Linked DNA regions of Homo sapiens: region 2 is linked to region 1. A link means that fine-mapping ties the variant in region 1 to the expression of a gene that starts in the linked region. Tissue or cell type: whole blood. Region 1 holds a variant in brackets; the other region holds the start of a gene. All regions are shown on one strand. Distances are between the middles of the regions. Region 1 has its middle 25 kb from the start of CD83. Region 2 holds the start of CD83 (CD83 molecule).

Region 1 (9,953 bases):
GAAATAGGGGAGATAGCAATGTAGAATTCATTGCAAATCATAAAAGTTTATTTACCAAGCTTAATGCTCAGAAGGGAATTAAACTCCTTAAAACTGAGAGAGTGTTATATAATGCTGAGAATTAAGGGAGAAGTAGCAAGTCTGAGTTAAGAAACCATGTTTTCCTGAACCCATCTTAACCTTCAGGGTCTCCAAGGTTCACAAGCATCTCTAGAACTCTCTGTTTACTCTCCCACTTTCTTCTTTATTAGCAATGCTGCTATTCCATCTTTAGGACCACTGCCAGACCAAAACTTCCTGAAAAGGTAATTTCCCTTCATCTCTTAAAGCTTTCTTGTCCTTGTTTTCCCAATCCATCTTCCTTTTCTTCTCTTTCTTTACTTCAATGTGCTGAAGGCACTTTTAGCTGGTGGTATATTAGGCAAATTTTGTTGCAGTAACAACCCCAAATTTTAATGATTTATGAAAATGAATCATTTCTCAGTCCTGGGACTGTAGGTCAGCTGCGCCTCAGCTGTGTCTCACCTAAACTTTTTGGCTTCCTCTAGACTTGATGGGGTTTGGTTGTAAGCTTCAGGTCAGATTCAAGTCTGCTTTGTGTGTTTTTCATTCTGAGACCCAGGCTGAAGAAGCAGTGGCCGCCTGGGGCATCCTTTTCTTATGGAGAGTAGCAGGAGTGCCAGACAGGAAGCGAAAAGACATAATGCCTCTGAGTCTCTCTTTGTGCTGGCATGCCACCATTGTGCCACACCCCATTCTTCAGTCAACGCACATCCTATGGCCCAGCCCAAGGTCAAGGGATGGGGAGATGTACTCCATTCAGGAGGGTGGACCAGGAACATGAAGACTGACTGAAGAATAATATAATCTACAATAGATGGGAGAAGGTGGAGTACAGTGATCCCTCAATCACTCATATAAAGAAACATAAAATAGTTCTCCAACATTTATTATGCTAGGGATGCTCTGCCCTTATTTCAGCACTCAAGGTTGCCTCAACTTCTCTGGAAAGAGAAGGTGGACAGAAATATAACTGGTCAATAGTCATCATAATAATGCTTGGAATTTATTGTGCAACTGCCACGTGCACAGTTACTTTACATATATTCATGTAATGAGTACCCATATTGGACTGCAACAAATGTAACTTTCTATGACTAAACTTAATTTCTATTTCAGTTTCTGTTTAGTGCTCTCATTCCAAAGCGTTTCAGAAATCTAATTTTTTTTTTTTTTTTTTGAGACGGAGTCCCGCTCTGTCACCCAGGCTAGAGTGCAGTGGCTCGGTCTCGGCTCACTGCAAGCTCCGCCTCCTGGGATCACACCATTCTCCTGCCTCAGCCTTCCGAGTAGCTGGAACTACAGGCGCCCGCCACCACGCCCGGCTAATTTTTTGTATTTTTAGTAGGGACGGGGTTTCACCGTGTTAGCCAGGATGGTCTCAGTCTCTTGACCTCGTGATCCGCCCGCCTCGGCCTCCCAAAGTGCTGGGATTACAGGCGTGAGCCACCGCGCCCAGCCCAGAAATCTAATCTTTTTCCCCGCAAGGGTGGAGGTGGTGGGGCGGGGCGTGGCGTGGTTATCACCTGTCGGTGCCGGCGTGGTCCTGTGCGTCCTCTCTCCTGCCTGGCCTCCAGTCATCCATGTGTGTAGTACTACCGCTGCCCCCACCTCATCCTGATGAGGCCCTGTGGATCTGGCTCTCTTCGTCACTCCTTTGCCCTTCTGGGGAGCAGGGACAATATCTGGCTGTGTTGGCCCAGTCCCTTTCTGCCTTGCTATGCCACCTAGCAATTTCTGCTCTATTGCTTCCCACCATGCTGGGCTCAAGGGACTTTGAGGTCTTATGGTCTTCGAAGGTTTCACACATGTTCTTGGGTCTTTAAAGCTATTGGGGTTCCTATCAGTCATCCTTTTCTCAGTTGGCTTGGCCCAAGATGGGGTGGAGAGGAGCAGGAGGCAGCGCTTTTTCTGGAACCATATTGCAATGATTAACTCTCTTGATTCTTATCAGTCTCTTCTCTCAATCCGTGGAACTGTTTCTGGGTTCAACTGGGGTGATTTGGCTTTATGGAGTGTTCCCAAATGTGTGGTTTATGAGATAATTTTATGTCCTGATACCTTCATATTTATCGCAGGTGAGAAAGTTCATTTTGAGGCAGATGAAGTCACTCTCCAACCTTGACTTAGTGAAGAAGTGGAAAAAGGAGAATTTGTAGGATTCAAAAGCTGAAACTTTCTCCTCTAGGCTAAACTGGCTCTACAAAAAAAGCAAGTTTTAAGCAGAAAAGGGCAAAATAGGGATAGTTTTAGTTCGAGCTGCTATAACAGAAATACTAGAGACTGGGTGGCTTATAAATGACATCGTTGCTCACAGTTCTGGAGGCTGGGAAGTCCAAGATCAAGGTGCTGGCAAATTCAGTACCCGGTGAGGACCTTCTTCCAGGTTTATAGATGGCATCCTCTCACTATGTCCTCACATGGTAGAAGCAGCAAGAGTGTGCTCTCTGGCCTCTTTTAGAAGGGTATTGATCTCATTCATGAGGGCTTCCCCTTCATGACCTAATCGCTTCCCAAAGGCCCCACCTCCTAATACATATTGATACATGAATTTGGTGGCAAGGGGAGAGACACAAACTTTCAGTCCCTAACAGGGATCTTCTGGCATCTCAACCCTAGTAGGAAGATTGCAGTAACTTGTGTGGGACCAAATCGAGAATTTCTAACAGGATCTTCTGTTGGGTGTTGGGGAGATGGCCTCAGTTTGGGGGGCAAAGTGGAGATTGAGCATATTCAGCTCTTGTTTTTAAGACTACAGAACACATTCCAGATAGAGAGAGTTTGAGACAAAATCCACACCCACCCCGCTCCCAAAACTGGATCCACAGAGGTCCAACACAGTGGTGAGAGGCTACGCTGAACTCACTGACTGTGCAGCCTTGGAGTTTGGGAAACAGACTTAGGTTTCTGTGTGCCTAGAAAGCATGTATAAACAGTACGACCCCTCTCAGTTTCTGAAAAGATCTGATACATGTCAAACACCCATTCCATCATCTCTGGTCCTGCCTTAAGTAGTGCTTCTTCAATTTCAAGAGATGTTACTCCATAGCCGAGCATTGACTGGGTAATAAACTTTTGTGACTTGTAATAAAAGGTGTGTTCACACACACACACATGCAGGCGCACACACACGTTGTCTACATAAATGATTGACTTGGGCAAGGCATCTCATTCTCTTTATTTTCTGTTGGAACCACATAATTTTCTTTTCTCTCACTCTTGGTTTCTCTCTCATGTGTCATGCATTGTGGTGTTATAACTAAGTACTATTCTTGCTATTATCACCAAGGAATAGGGAATAGAAAATCAGGCTTTTTTTTTTTTTTGGTATAACTGTTCTCCTTTTTTCAGCCTCAATGCATTTTGAAAGAAGTTGGAAGTTAGAACACTTTCTGAAGTATGACTGTTTGCTTGTTACTTAGCTTGTCTGATCCTTGTAAAATAGGAATAATGGGAATATTGACTGGGGAGAAAAAGGGGAGATGCAAATCTGCACACGTGACATCATCCTATTTATGTTAAAATATATACATAGAGACTTACTAGCATAAAATATGCCAAGATATTCATGGTGGTTATCTCTGGGCTGTGAGATGATGGACAAATCTGAATTTCTTCCTTATATCACCCAGTTTGATTGCTCTTTTCACTAAATTTGTTCCCAAATGACTTTTTCTGTTTCCAAAATCGTATTCATTCCCAAAGGACAAAGAGTTGCTGCCTTTAATAATATATTTTTTTAAATGGCTTTGAAGGAAATCATAAAAAGATTTTCAGCACAGTTTTGACCACTGGCAATTCTTTGGAATAAATGAATAAGGTGGCTGATTTGAAGGAACAAGATTCACTTTGACGTATAATTTCTGGAATATTGCAAAATCAGTTGTGGTGCTTTGATAGCTATGCCCATACTTGGAAGGAAAGCAGGCTTATCCCATTGTTCTTTTGGTGTTTTTTTGAACTCCAGATCAATATAACATGCGATTGTAGTAATCTGACCAGTCATCTGGAAAGTTCCAGTATATGAAAAGTAGATTTGTATTTAAAAAAAAAAAAACACCCTTTCATTGAATGCTTTAATATAAAACAAACCTTCCTGACTTGTTTTATAAAAAGAGGAACTATACTACATTTGAAACTAAACTGTGGGAAAAAAAATGTGGTTCTGAAGAATATTCTCTGGTCTTAAATAGAGAATATGAAAATCAAATATGATCAGCTGTCATACACAAAAGTGTATTTTATTAATAAAAATGAAACAGAGCACTGTAAAATAGGAAGTAAACATTAGCTTTACACAAGGTTTTGCTTCATAGTCCTTTTAAACTTAATCTTCGCCAAAGGCTGAGAAGCGATTCACAGGCCTTTTAAATAGGTGGCTTCACTATCTCTCACTTATTTCTATTGATGTATTTTGGCTGGGAAAGAGAAATGCTTATATTCAATATCTATGGAATTGAGAATTTGAATATTATCTTTATCAAAAAAGATAAGGCATATGACATTGAGTATTAATAGATCAGAAATATTTATTTGATTGACAACTCAGTTACTTTTGCTTCTCCAATGGACACTCCATAAATATTCGAATGCGTCTTATGTCTACTGTGTGCATAGCCTTATGCTAATTCCATGAATGCAATGGTGATGTGTTTCCAGCTAACATCTGGAAGCCTTATTCTGCCAAAGATGAGAGATCACGGTACAGAATGTTCCTAATAAGAGTATTTTATTATCCATCCTGTACTCGCATGGTCCCTGTTCTCAATGACTTTATAGTCTTGTTGATAAGGTTTCAAACATGCAAGTATTGAGTAATATGTCAGACTGACTTCTAGAAAACGTTTTATTGACTATGATCAGGGGCCCAAATATAGGACACCAAAAAGAAGGATTTAGGGTGGACAAGTTGTAGAGAAGCTAAAGGAACCAAGGAAGGTGTCACAAAAGAGGTGGTTTGAGGAGTGTGTGATGCAAGGATAGGGTAATAATTCATCTCTAGTCTAAATCAGACCTTATTTTGGCAATTTTATTAGTCATCAACTACCGCAATAATGTATAACAAATAATGCCCCAAGTCTCACTGGCTGACGCCACAAACATTCATTTTTTTATTCACAGGTCTGTGGATTGGCAGGGACTCAGCTGATCTTGGCTGGGCTCCACTGGGCATGGCTCCAGGCTCCAGGTCTACTTTGGGCCTGCTTTATATATTTTGTTCTGGAACTGGCACCACCTGGGGCATAGTCTTCTTACGGTGATGGCGGAAATACAACAGGCCAAGTCAAATCATGCAAGCACATTTAAAGCCTCTTTTACATCATTTCCACTAGCGTCTGTTATTCAAGGCAAAGCCTGTGGCTGAGCCAAGCTTCCATGGGGTGAGGAAAAACACTGCACTCATTCTAGTGAGAGCCACTGCAAAGTCACATGGCAAAGGTCACGGGTGTAGAATTCTGTAACAGAGAGAGAGTGAAGAATGGGAAACAAAAATTCAATGTACCCCAGTCACATTTTTGAAAAAAATAGTGGAAAAATTGCAAACAGTATAGATTAAAAAAACAACAACAACAAAACCTGCACAGTACAGGAACCAAGTGAAGAATGTAGGTGGAGATAATTGTGTTTAGCTGGCCTGAAATGAAAAGACTAATAGTCACTTCCACCACTATCTTTGAGTTTGCAAGTTTGTGAGGGGCCTAATGCTGACTAGTGGACCCTCCTGGCTGAAAAAAAAAAGACAGTAGACTGGAGTTAAATGAGAACTCAAGTTGCGAGAAAAATCTTCCCTCTTTGGGAGATAAAGCCCTGGCAGCAAGAACTGAAGGAGGTAGAGTACTATTTCTGCATCTTCAGGGAGAGCTGCAAGGAGAGGGAGCTGTGTCTTGTCTCACTGAGGTGCCTGGACAAGATGAACATTTCAGGTCTTTTTCAGTTCTAGGTTTCTATGATGTCAGTGCTACTTCCCTTTCCAAAACCCCACAGTG[G/A]CCAGGCATCACAGTGCCACAAGTGAAAAGACCCATGACTGCCTTTATAAGTAAGTTCTTCTTTTGGTTTCTCTGGCAGGAGGCAGATGGAGGAGGAGAGAAAGGCCAGAGGTCTGTTTTGGGGTTGTTGTCTCTGGTTGTCTAAGTCATGCCAAGACACCACCCCTTGGAGCCTGGTTCCTGACATCCGGCAGCATGGCATACTTGAAGGGCATGATGTGGGGATAACAACAGAGCCCTGGCTGAGTCCGGTGGCTCACGCCTGTAATCCCAGCACTTTGGGAGGCCGAGGCAGGCGGATCACCTGAGGTCAGGAGTTTGAGACCAGCCTGGTCCACGTGACAAAACCCTGTCTCTACTGAAAATACAAAAAAAGTTTGCCGGGCATGGTGGCACACACACACACACGCACGCACACACACACACACATGCCCCCATAAGCATCCCAGTATTTGGAAGCAATCAGTTGATTTTTTTTCTTTTTAGAATTCAGTTTGGTGTTATAGGGACACTGCTAGCCTCAGGCAGTGCCGCAAGAGCAGATCAAGGCTCTGATTAAAAAATTCCTCAGTTGCTCCCAGCTGGAGATGTCTGCTTACAAAGCCCTTACAAAGAAATGTTTTTCAATAGGCAACATTCTCTGGTCTGGCCCCACCAAGGAAGTACAGCAGGAAATCTCACAGGCATCCCGATTGCCATTGCCCTCCTGCTCCCAGACACACACTTGGCCCCAACTGGCCTCTGACATGCTCCATGGGGAGCAAAATGGACTTGCTCCATTTTATCCATTGCTCTGGGCTCCACGGTGTTAAGCATGATGGCTTGGAAACTCTATATACCCAGTAAATGAATGCTTGTTGAATAACTTAATGAACACACCCCATGTCAGCCTATCTCCTCAATGCACATCCGCCAGCCACCTCAGCTCAGGCACCTCGCTGATTTTCAAAACATGGGCTAAAAGCTACCATAGGGCATCTAATTATACCTTCTGGTGTAGAAGGTGTTCTCTCATAGGAGGCCTTAGCCAAGTTTGAGAACAAGGACTTTGTATGGAATGAGCTGCATAATGGACAGCACTGGCTGGACCAGCCATTGGGGGTGTCTCTGGCTGAAATTTAACAAAGTTTCCATAGACCTTTTACCAGATTTACTGAGAATGTTGATTTCCTCTATTAAAGCTTAAACGTCAATTCAGGGGAATTTCCCCATAAATGTTGTGAGACTAAACGTGGCTTCTTGTGGGTTCCACATGGGAGCTCACCAGGATGTTGCCCAGCCTTTGTAAAGGTCTGCCTGGTTTCCTGTACCTAGTGGTCAACGTCAGCAGCTGTACCTGTGCCCAGCATTGGGAGGCTCGTCCTCGGCCCTCACCCGGCCATAGGCAGTCAACATCACTAGTTCTCCCCTGCTTAGCACCCAGTGGCTGCCTTTTTGGCCTCTAAACTTGCTTCCCTGTGTTCTTGATCCCTGAAGCTCACCACTGGTCCACCTGCCAATTACTCACTTTAATCTTATCAGAGTAGATACCCAGGTTTTACATTTCACCCAACAGAACTTGAGTCCTAATTCTCATTTCCTTCCTTTCATCCATGAGCTTTACATGGGAATTTGCATTTACAGTTATGCCTGTGAATTCAGAGGCCTCCCCTGGACCAGGCGGTCATGTGCTGAGTGAGGCGGGTGACCAGCTTGGAAGCCAGGGCGGGAAGTTCGCATGGCCCTCTGGGTGAATCCTTTGCTTCCCTGCTTTGGAAGACAGCTGGCTGCAGAGCAAGAGTTCTCTTGTGTGAGGCCCATGGCAGTGTCGGACCCTAAATGGCCATTGGAACACACCCCCAGGTTTCTAGCTGCACTGGGTAGGGGTGGGTGAAGGAGAACTGAGGGCGCGTCAGCCTCTCCTGCCTGGACAAAAAGGCATGTAGGTCACAGTTCTCCCCAGGTGTTCTCAAGTCTTGCTTGTTTGTTGTCAAGAGAAGGCAGAATTCTGCCTTGAAAAAAACCTCTGTGATGGCCATTTAAACAGCCTGTGGATTGTTTCCAGGCCTGAGCACTGCTGGAGGAGGATGCTGGCTTACAGAGGCCTCTCCAAAGCATCAGTCTTTGGACTCCCAGGAGCACTATTATTAGCCTCCCTTCACATTCAGAAGGCGCCCACCCACAAGAGTGGGTGGATATCAGGGTCTGGGCCCACATCTTCTGACTCCAAGTCTGTGTATCTTGCTACCATGCAGCTGATTTCCCAGTTGCTGAGTTTTCTCTGTGCACATCTTGATGGCTGATACCTGTAATAACAGAAACTTCGTTCAACTCTCATAAACCCTGAGTCTGGAGGTCTGGGACATATTAGGCCATACGAGGGGGCTTAGCTTGCTTTCTGTCTCTTTCTCTTCCACCTGGAACATAAGTTGTCCCCTAGGTGAAGGCCGTCTGCCACACTGACTGTGTAATCTGAACTTGGAGCCAGAGGTTCTGAGTCTTAGCGCCGCCCTTGCTATTATCTTCCAGCATGATTTTTGGGCTTGTGCTTTCACTCTACTGAGACTCAGATTCCACACCAATAATAGAGAGATTTGAACTAATGTATCCATTGAGATGGTTTGAATGCATGTTACAGAAAACCTAACTCAAGCAGGCATAGGCAAGAACTTGAAATAATTAGTTCATGCAATTCATTAAAAAGGGCAGGGGCTTGATCCAGGGGCTTGAACAATATTTCAGGAACTGGTCTGTTCCCCTCTTAGCATTGCTCTCTTCCTTCCATTTCGGCTTCATTTCAAGGCTCCACATGATGCCAAGAGGGCTGCTGGTTACTCCAGGTCTACTACCTCCCAGATGCTAGTGCAAGGAAAAAGAGGAAGATGGCCTCTAACAGTGGCAGCTAAAGGCTATGAAAAATCACTGACTCAGTTGTGTTAAGCGCCCACCCCTAGGCCAGGCCCCATGGCCAGAGAAATGTGGTACTCCGAATGGACAGGACTGTCACATGCCCACCCCACATATGGGTGGGGCCCATGAAACACACATGGGAAAAGGATGTGGGATGCGTGCTTTCCCCCCAAAAAAGCAGGGCATGGTTGCCCAAAGAATGGCAAATAGGTACTGGGTGTTAAGCTTCATTACTGATTTAATTTTATTGTTTGCCAGGTAGAATGTGAACATGCTTTCAAAAGTCAAAACAATATAGAAAAGCATGCTCAGGCTGGGCCCAGTGGCTCATGCCTGTAATCCCAGCACTTTGGGAGGCCGAGGCAGGCAGATCACCTGAGGTCAGGAGTTCGAGACTAGCCTGGCCAACATGGTGAAACCTCATCTCTACTAAAAGTACAAAAATTAGCTGGGTGTGGTGGCCAGTGCCTGTAATCCCGGCTACTCGGGAGGCTGAGGCAGGAGAATTGCTTGAACCTGGGAGGCAGAGGTTGCAGTGAGCCAAGATCTACCACTGCACTCCAGTCTGGGCAATAAAAGTGAAACTCTGTCGAAAGAAAGAAAGAAAGAGAGAGAGAGAGAGAGAGAGAGAGGAAGGAAGGAAGGAAGGAAGGAAGGAAGGAAGGAAGGAAGGAAGGGAGGGAGGGAGGGAGGGAGGGAGGGAGGGAATTAAAAAGAAAAGCGTGCTTTTTCCATCCTATTCCCTCATACTCCTTAGAGGAAAACAACTACAAGATTTTTTGGATTTTTCTTCCCATGTTTCTTTTTGTAGAGAGAAGCTCAAGAAGCTTGTCTTTGTAGAGACAATATGGGTGGATCACGAGGTCAGGAGATCGAGACCATCCTAGCTAACACGGTGAAACCCTGTCTCTACTAAAAATACAAAAACAAAAAATTAGCTGGGCATGGTGGTGGGCGCCTGTAGTTCCAGCTACTCGGGAGGCTGAGGCAGGAGAATGGTGTGAACCCGGGAGGCGG
Region 2 (9,953 bases), 23 kb after region 1:
ACATAACAGAATAAGACATCAAAAAGATTAGACTGAGCTACATAGGAAATCAAATATAACTCAGAAATTTAAAAATTATCATTTAAAGCTTACTATGTTAAACCAAAGATTATATATTACCAAATAAATAACTAATGAATGGAAAGAAAGATCTGAGGAATCTTCAGAAGCCTGTGCAGAGAGATGAAGAGACAGAACATGCAGAGGAAGGGCTTACTGACAAGGAGTGTGGACTGTGAAGGACCAACCATATCTATTAGATGTTCAAGACATGATAAATGAGGACTAATGAAAGTTATGAACCACAGCAGGTTAAGTAACATGAAATCCTCTACTGGACACAACACAGTATAACTAAAAGAAGACCAGTCGGGTGCGGTGGCTCACGCCTGTAATCCAGCACTTTGGGAGGCTGAGGCGGGCGGATCACCTGAAGTCAGGAGTTCGAGAACAGCCTGGCCAACATGGCGAAACCCCATCTCTACTAAAAACACACAAAAAAATTAGCTGGGCATGGTGGCACGTGCCTGTAGTCCCAGCTACTCAGGAGGCTGAGGCACCAGAATCGCTTGAACCCGGGAGGCAGAGGTTGCAGTGAGCCGAGATCACACCACTACACTCCAGCCTAGGCAACAGAGCAAGATTCCATCTCAAAAAAAAAAAAAAAAAAAAAAAAAGACCAAGTAGAAAGGCCAAGATCTTAGAAATTCTCAAAGACAAAAGCATTGCCTACAAAGGAATGAGTTATCAGGTTGTCTGGAACTTTGCAACAGCAACAACAGAAGCCAGAAGACCAATGGAATAATATGTTCAAGTGCTGAGAAGGAATAACCGTCAACTTACAACTACACTATGATTCAAGGATATGGGCAAAATAAACACTTTCACACAAAAACAGAGAGCATTTTCCACTTGAAGACCTTTGCTAAAAGAATTAACAATATACTTCAGAAGGAATTGAACCAAGAAAGAAGCAGTGAGATGTACAATATGAGATAAATTTCAACAAATATCTAATATGTAAAAAAAGACTACTTGGGGAGTATAAAAACATAGTGGAACAAGGGTACTGGTCATAATAGTAGATGAGATGGGCAGAGTTCGGGCATTTGGGCATTTTAGGGCAAAGGGTGGCAATATTAATTAACTCTAGAATTTATTAAATCGAGTATGCTTATGAAAAATTATAAAAAGTTAATCACATAAGAAGAGAAATAGTATGCATGACTTCCAAACCAGTAGAGAGAACACCACAGAATATATATTTCTATTTTTATTTTATTTTTTGAGACCAAGTCTGGCTCTGTTGCCCAGGCTGGAGTGCAGTGGTACAATCTCGGCTCACTGCAACCTCCGCCTCCTGGGTTCAAGTGATTCTCATGCCTCAGCCTCCTGAGTAGCTGGGATTACAGGCACGCACCACCACACCCAGCTAAATTTATTTATTTATTTATTTATAGTAGAGATGGGTTTTACTATGTTGTTCAGGCTAGTTTCAAACTCCTGACCTCATGTGACCCACCCGCCTCGGCCTCCCAAAGTGCTGGGATTACAGGCATAAGCCACCATGCCCGGGCTAAAATATTTTTATTAATGGTCAATAAAAAGATGCAAGAAAGGAAGAGGCAGAGAAAAATCTGGTTAAGCATAAAGCGTAAAACAAAATGACCAAAATAAATCCTAATGTAGCAGAATTCACAAAGTAATAAAATTAAACCCTCAGTTAGCAAGATAGATTGTCAGTCATACTGGATAGAAGAAAATCTAACAATATACTTTAAAAAGGACACAATAGAATGTAAGGAAAAAGAAATGTTGAATGTAAAAGTATTGAAAACGCCAGCAAGAAATTAACCCAGAGAAAAGAAGAGGCAGAGGATGGTAATATTAAGAGTAAACAGGCTGGGCATGATGGTTCACGCCTGTAATCCCAGCACTTTGGGAGGCTGAGGTGGGCGGATCATGAGGTTAGGAGTTCGAGATCAGCCTACCAACATGGTGAAATCCCATCTCTACTAAAAATACAAGAATTAGCCAGGCATGGTGACGGGTGCCTGTAATTCCAGCTACTTGGGAGGCTGAGGCAGAGAATTGCTTAACCTGGGAGGTGGAGGTTGCAGTGAGCCGAGATCCCGCCACTGCACTCCAGCCTGGGCGACAGAGCGAGACTCCGTCTCAAAAAAAAAAAAAAAAAAAAAAAAGTCAAATAAATGAAGAGAAAAAGGAACAATTCATTGGAAAAACATAACTTCCAGACACTAAAACATAGCATCAAATTATACCAAGCCAAAAAAATGATAAAATTTCAGAGATAAACAGACAATTCTGTAGTCATGGGAGAGAATTTAACACATCTCTTTCAATAATTGATAGTTCATGATTACAGAAGGGATATAGAAGATCTGAGCAACACCATGAGCAAAATCAAAAAGATCTTTCTTTCCGAGTACATGCCACTCTTACCAAAAGATCACATATGAGGCTACAAAGCAATCCTTGATATTGCAACAAAGAATCATACAGACTGTTCTTGAGCAACCTCAACTGTTAGACACCAGTAGCAAAATGAAAAGCAAGCCATATATTGGGAAATTTTTTTAAAAAAACCCTCTAAATAATTCATAATTCAACAAGTGACTTAATGGAGAGTCTAAGAACACATTGTTAACATTAATAAGAAAGGAAATTTCTACTCACTGGCTATGGACACCTAGAAAAATAGAGTTTAAAAAATATATATGTGAAAGTAGCAACACAATGTGAAGGTATCCAGGAAGAAATCTATCAAAAGATGTGAAAAACCTATATATATATAATTTTAAAAATTCTTGAAGACCTAAATAAATGGAAAGATACACAATATGGGATGAATTTGTAGAACTGACTTCTAAAGATGTTGATTTTAGGAGATTTATAAATTGAATATATTCCTACTAAAATTCAAATCAAGTTTTTTGAGGTTCACAAATTGATATAATATGTATAAGGTAGAACAAAGAACCAAGAATGCCAGAACATTTTTTTTTTTTTTGGATACACAGTCTTGCTCTGTCACCCAGTCTGGAGTGCAGTGGCACAATCTCGGCTCACTGCAGCGTGGACCTCCTGGGCTTAAGCGATCCTCCTGCCTCAGCCTCCTGAGTAGCTGGGACCACAGGTGCAAGCCACCATGCCCGGCTATTTTCTGTATTTGTTATTTTTTTGCATTTTTAGTAAAGACCAGGTTCACCATGTTGCCCAGGCCAGTCTTGAACTCCTAATCTCAAGTGATCCGTCCACCTGGGCCTTCCAAAGTGCTGGGATTACAGGCGTGAGCCACTGCACCCAGCCACCAGAACGATTTTGAAGACGAAGTTCAACATGTGAGGACTCACTTCCACCACAGCAAGACTTAATTAAATTATAGTAATAAGAAAGTGTGATATTAGCACAAAGAGAGGCAGAATAGAGTCTAGAAACAGGCCCACTCATATGTAGAAATTTGTATAAAGCACAGATGTCATTTTAAATCAGTAGGGAAAGAAGGACTTTTAGCAAGCAGCATTGGAAAAAATGGTTATCCATATGGAAAAAATAAGTTAGATCACGACATCAAACCATATTTAAATGGATTAAAGACCAACATATGAAAAAGCATGACTTTAAAAGTTTTGGAAGGAAATGAAGGAGAATGTTTTTATGATCTCAGGTCAGGAAAAGATTTCTTAAACACAATACCAGAAGCACAAATCATAAACCAAAAGATCAGTAAATTTGACCACATGAAAATATTTTTTAAAAACTCTTTGGTAAATTAAAGATATCATAAACAAAATGGAAAATACAAATCTTAAACTTGGAGAAGAGATTTGGCATGGATATAACCAAGAAAGGATTTGGCCCAGATTTTATAAACAGCGCTCATGGAAAAGGCCAAAGGATATGAATGACAATGCTCAGAAATATCCAATGTTCTTGAAGCATATGTTATCAATGTAACATAAATTAAGCAAAAAGGATCTAATATTTCACACTCATTAGATAGGCAGAAATTTAAAAAGATCTGGCTGGGCACGTGGCTCACACCTGTAATCCCAGTACCTTGGGAGGCCAAGGTAGGAGGATCTCTTGAGCCCAGGAATTTGAGACCAGCCTGAGCAACATAGTGAGACCCTATCTTTAAAGAAAAAAATCTGATCATGCTAAGACCTGCTGAGGGGAGTGTAAATGGGCATGTGCATTTTGGATAATAAGACGGCAATATTTAACAATGCAGTGTAATTACTGAGCTAGAGTGTTGGAAGACTTTCAGCTCCCCTGCAACATTGTTTATAATCAGGAAAAACTGAAAAGAAGCATAAATGGCTAGGTATGAGATCTGGCAGAGGACACATAGTGGGTCTCAAAAGACCATCCTGGCTAACACGGTGAAACCCCGTCTAAAAATACACACACAAAAAAATTAGTCGGGCGTGGTGGCGGGCTCCTGTAGTCCCAGCTACTCGGGAGGCTGAGGCAGGAGAATGGCGTGAACCCGGGAGGCGGAGCTTGCAGTAAGCTCAGATCACGGCCACTGCACTCCAGCCTGGGAGACAGATCGAGACTCCGTCTCAAAAAAAAAAAAAAAAAAAAAAAAAGAGGGTCTCGAAAATGTTAGTACTGTTTTATTTCTCAAGAATAAATTGTATACAGATGTGTTCAATTCCATATTTTCTATACTTATTTTGTATGCTTAACATTTTCACAATTAAAAAATTAATTTGGTGAGGCTGCTGGAGAAAAGGTACTCACACAAGCTGGCGGGACTGTCAATTGATATAACTACTTCCAAGAGCAGATTAGAACTGGTGGTATAGTGATGCCACTCTTTTTAACCTCTTGGATGGACAAAGATAGAAAGGTTGGATAACAGTTTGTGTTGGCAAACAGGCACTCTCTTTGCAGATGGGAATATAGATTGAAGACACCTCCTTGCAGGTAATTTTTTGGCAATATTTGACAAAATTGGAAACTCCCCTTCACCTAGCACAATTTCCTTGAGGTATTTATTCTAAGAAAATAAGCAATTTTAGAGCAAAGATTTATCTACACTGAAGTTTCCCATAGCAATCACAGTATTGTTTCTAATATTAGTAATACAAAAAGAAACAACCTGTATGTCTAACACTAATCGATTCTAATTTATGGTGCAACTGAACAATGGACCAAAATGATGCTGTTGGAAGTTTTTAATGATGTGGAACCGCTTGCAAATTATTAAGCTAAAAGAAAGTAGGTTACAAGATAGCAGGAAGAATAAACCATTAAAAATACCAATCTGTGCACTGACAAATGTTATAAATATTTTACGTTATGTTATGTTATAAACATTTTATAATATAAAAAAATGTTAACTGAAGTTACTTCCTGGATGAATTACAGGTGATTTCATTGTCTTCTAGAATTTTCTTTTCCAAAAATGTTGTGTATGCGTGTAATTATTATTTTAATAGGAGACACTCTCCTTTGGTGATATAATTTAAACAGGACGGTACTGACTGATAACCTCCCGGGGAAGGCAGGGAGCCAAGTACTACAGACTTGTATGTTTCCATGGAAATCTAACGCGCCTTTGATTATCACAGATTCTGGAGAAGAGTGAGGACTTGGGTTCACCAGTGCGTTCCCAAGGACAGGCTGGGCTTCTGAGGAAGTTGCCCACCCTCTCGGAATCTGGTTTGGCCTCCGTAAAATGGGCAGATCCCGCTCGGATGGCCCGGTTCCCGGCTTCCTTTTGCGGGTCAACGGCAGCGTCACGCGCGCGAGCGCGGTCTGCAAAGCCCCCAGCGCTGGGCGTCACGCGGGGATTGCTGTCGCCGCTGCCAGCCGCAGCAGCGACGCGAACTCGGGGCGCCCGGCCCGGGCGCGCGGGGGCGGGGACGCGCACGCGGCGAGGGCGGCGGGTGCGACGGGGGCGGGGACGGGGGCGGGGACGGGGGCGAAGGGGGCGGGGACGGGGGCGCCCCGGCCTAAGCGGGACTAGGAGGGCGCGCCACCCGCTTCCGCTGCCCGCCGGGGAATCCCCCGGGCTGGCGCGCAGGGAAGTTCCCGAACGCGCGGGCATAAAAGGGCAGCCGGCGCCCGCGCGCCACAGCTCTGCAGCTCGTGGCAGCGGCGCAGCGCTCCAGCCATGTCGCGCGGCCTCCAGCTTCTGCTCCTGAGCTGCGGTAGGGCTCGCGAGCGCCTGTCTCGCCTGTCGCCCCCCGCCCCTCCACGACACCCCCTCCCGTCGGTCGCTTGCTCACGACGCGCTCTCTCTTTCTTGTAGCCTACAGCCTGGCTCCCGCGACGCCGGAGGTGAAGGTGGCTTGCTCCGAAGATGTGGACTTGCCCTGCACCGCCCCCTGGGATCCGCAGGTTCCCTACACGGTCTCCTGGGTCAAGGTAGGTGCTGCGATACCCACGGGCTGGGGTTTGGTGGGCTCATTTGAAGACAGCAGGAACCATCTCCCCTAGGCTGGCGACCCTCTGTGGCTGCCAGGTGGGGGCGAGGGGCGTCTCCCGCAGCTGAACTTGGAGTACCCAGCCTCCCGTCGCGCCTCCCCCACCCCATCCGCATCCAGGTACAGGGCCGAATTAGGTTTTGCTCTCCGCAGACCTCAATCCCCTTCCTGTCACTGAAGGTGGCCTGAGATGAATGATCCACTTAAGATGTTTTGGAAGGGCAGAGACTCTCATTTGGATTAATTCTGGAGGCCACCTGTGGTTGTGGGCCAGCAGGTCAGGAAGAAAGCAACAGGGACCTAGATTTGGGCATTGGACAGGGGGAATGTCTCCAGACTTCTGATTTCTTGTGTTTTGTGACTGTGATGCCCATGATACATGGGAGGGGGAGGGGGCAATTTGAAAGGAAAGGCTAAGACACAGAAGTGACTTAGGCCATTTCATCCATGGTAGTTATCAGTGGTCATCTCCTTTGTGGGATACCCTTGGCTTCCTCCCCTAGCCCTCCTCCTCCTTCCTCTGGCAGCCTTGAGAGCATCAGGTGGATGCATGAGCCGGAGCCCGCATGTGTAAGAACAGGCCTTGCTGCTCCTACTGTAAGTGGACTGAGTGACAAGGAGGCTTTTTCAAGGTTTCCTCTTGACTGAAACATTCTCAGATTCTAAGATGGCAATGATGGTGTCATTCCAAAGCCAAGCAGCTACTGTTTGATATCACTGGTCCTTCTTTAAGTCAGGCCACTGCTACCACAGCACCTCCATTTTAACCCAAATGAATATGATATTACAACCTTACTCTGTAGCTCTCACTGATTTGCTGTCTTACCACGGGGGCAAATCTCTGCACTTGTAGCTTTCCCCAAAATGCAGGGCGTTCTTCTGCCCACCATAAAAGATACTATAAGAAACTGTACGTCTTTGGCCACTTAACAGTACAAGGCATCATTGCGGTGATCTCTTTGTGTGTGTGTCTCCTAACTGGATGGTCAGTTCCCTGGGGGGCAGTGGCTGTATCCATACTTCTGTGTATTCTTCACGGCACCTAATTTTTGCCCTATAAATTGCAAAGGTGCTCTGTGAATTCAGCCCAGCACTTCATGAGTTATGCATGACGGGGATGGTGCTGCTGCCTCAGAGCATTGTATTGTGTATAAAAGTAAGGTGTTAAATATTCCTACTTCATTGGTACCTTACTTACTGTGGGATCAGAGAACACAACAATTCCGAAATTGTTCTCATAGTCAAAACAATAGTATTTTTAAAAATATTGTAAAAACAATTTTTGAATGCTCACCACGTGCCAAGCTCCAAGGTAAATATTTACATACATTATCCATTTCCATCCATCGGAAGAATGGACTTAGGGATTAGTACTGTTACTATTCCTACTTTACAGGTGAGGAAACTGAGCCTTAGGGAGGGAAATAACTTGTCCACTTTTGCACAGCTAGCTAAATGGTGGAGTTGGGATTTGAACGAAGCAGTCTGATTCCAAATCCTGAGTTGTTAGAGGTCTATCTTGATCTCTGTTTTCTCCCTTAATAACTTAAGATAAAGAAAATCAAAGTGCCCCTGGGCTAACCAGGCAGGGACTTAGTTATCTCAAAGAACGGGGAAAAACATGAAACCACTATCCCTTCCAGAGAGTAACTATTTAATAAAGAAAACATTATTAATACCCCCAGGGGAGTAATTAAAAAGTACTCATGAAACAAGTAGATGAAATTTCAGGCTGTGAAGTTCAAACAGTTCTGGAGTGAAAGCTTCTTGCACAGGGTCATTTGGAATGGTCCACTAAACCATAGCAATTAACCTTGGACTTCTCCTTGGATGTCAGCTGGTGACGTAACTCGGTAACGCATGAGCTTGTTTATTGGACAGAATTCTTGCGAGATTTACCCCCAAGGTCTTTGAAAGCTCTGTCAAGAAAAAAAGGGACAGCAGTCTCTAGGCGTTCTTTTTTTCCTGTTGATCCATGGAATAGTGCCAATGAAAAGTCATACCGTAGTTATTTTTTGAGAAGTAAATGGTGATTGAGATTCGTGGGTAGGAGAGTTATGCTATACCAATAAACGAATCAGGTGCCTCGAAAGTGACATATATTGTTCCTTTAAGCATTTTTTTTAAAACAGCTCTCAGCATGTTCTGTAGATACTTATTATTTTCCAGCCCAATAATTATACTTTTTCATTGATTATGCTTATACAACAAAAATGGATAGAGTGTTCTGGAGACAAGGCCAGTGGTGAAATGCCAAAATACTTCATTTTACAGAATGTTAAGCATCTGGTCATTTTTCTATAAGTTTCTTGTAAAATGTTTCATCAAAGTGGAGGGGTAGCCACAAAGGGAGGAATTTCATTTTGGTAACCAGAACCAGCTTATCCCATCCTACTCACTTCATCATCACTACCCTGGCTTTGTAAAACCTGTTTTGCCAGCTTAGGAGGGGGCTTCATACTGGGCAAGGAAAGCAGAGTCCCTTGCAGTGGGTTTTCACCATCCACCAGATTGAAGCACATTCTGCAGGCTGTCTGCATATCATAAGTATGGTTATAATGACTCACAATTTAAAATTCTATTCACCACTCAATCCTCCGGCACCATGTAGCATCTTGCCTTTGTCCATTTGGCACTGATACTTGTAATTAACAAAAGGACCCATGTAAACCATGTGTTTTTTATCATATGCCTTTGACCAGAAAACTCAAAACAGACAGCATCCAATCTGTTTGCAACATTAGGGTTGGGAAGGAAGAGTGTTCATTCTGTTCTCTCTGTTTCAAAGATGCAGTGAGATGGGCTAGAGGGGACTTAATAGACACATGTGCAAGAGGCTAAAGGTGAAGCCAAAAGTGGACAGAGATATCCCAATTCCTGTTGGCCCAGCTCTTCTCTTCTATGGACCATGTCCTCTTAACTGGGATCCAACAAAGGGTCCTCTTCTCATCCCTTCCTCCCTTATACTTTTTAAGGCATAATGGGTGATTGAGAAGAAATAGAAAAGTTAATACATTATATTCATTAGGATAGTAGCTCAATTTAGCTTTATGTTTATTTTTTGAGACAGAGTGTCACCCTGTTTCCCAAGCTGGAGTACAGTGGCATGAAGATGGCTCACTGCAGCCTCGACTTCCTGGGCTCGAGTAATCCTCCCACCTCAGCCTCCCAAGTAGCTGAGACTACAAGGGCGTACCACCACACCTGGCTAATTTTTATGTTTTTAATTTTTTGTAGGGACAAGATTTCAATACATTGCCCAGGCTGGTCTCCAACTCCTGAGCTCAAGCCATCCTCCCACTTCAGCCTCCCAAAGTGCTAGGATTACAGGCATGAGCCAATCGATTTATCTTTTAAAGTTGTAATAGACTGGGTGTGGTGGCTGAGGCTTATGCCTGTAATCCCAGCATTTTGGGAGGCGAAGATGGGAGGATCACTTGAGCCCAGGAGTTTGAGGCCAGCCTGGGCAATGCAGTGAGACCTGTCTCTACC

The links. PIP is the estimated chance that this variant, and not a neighbour inherited with it, causes the effect. A credible set is the group of variants that fine-mapping cannot tell apart.
Region 2: CD83 starts here. The variant in region 1 is the best candidate, but not a certain one, in a credible set for the expression of CD83 in whole blood (INTERVAL, PIP 0.52).

Annotation. Positions count from the first base shown.
Region 1 is chr6:14,088,278-14,098,230 of GRCh38, forward strand. No RefSeq gene overlaps it. Among named protein-coding and RNA genes, the nearest start is that of CD83, 25 kb to the right of the region's middle. RefSeq lists enhancers at 365-414, 451-952, 6,058-6,187, 7,081-7,210 and a cis regulatory region at 7,059-7,559. The variant G/A (reference allele first, on the strand shown) is at 6,048.
Region 2 is chr6:14,111,664-14,121,616 of GRCh38, forward strand. CD83 (CD83 molecule) reads left to right here and starts at 6,109. Exons shown (of 5, transcript NM_004233.4): 1 at 6,109-6,185; 2 at 6,287-6,402. The coding sequence starts at 6,149. LOC124901265 (a long non-coding RNA gene) reads left to right here. Exons shown (of 2, transcript XR_007059464.1): 2 at 1-145. RefSeq lists silencers at 5,435-5,729, 5,857-5,976 and cis regulatory regions at 5,472-6,380, 5,720-6,536, 5,720-6,375, 6,541-7,041, 6,612-7,438 and 1 more.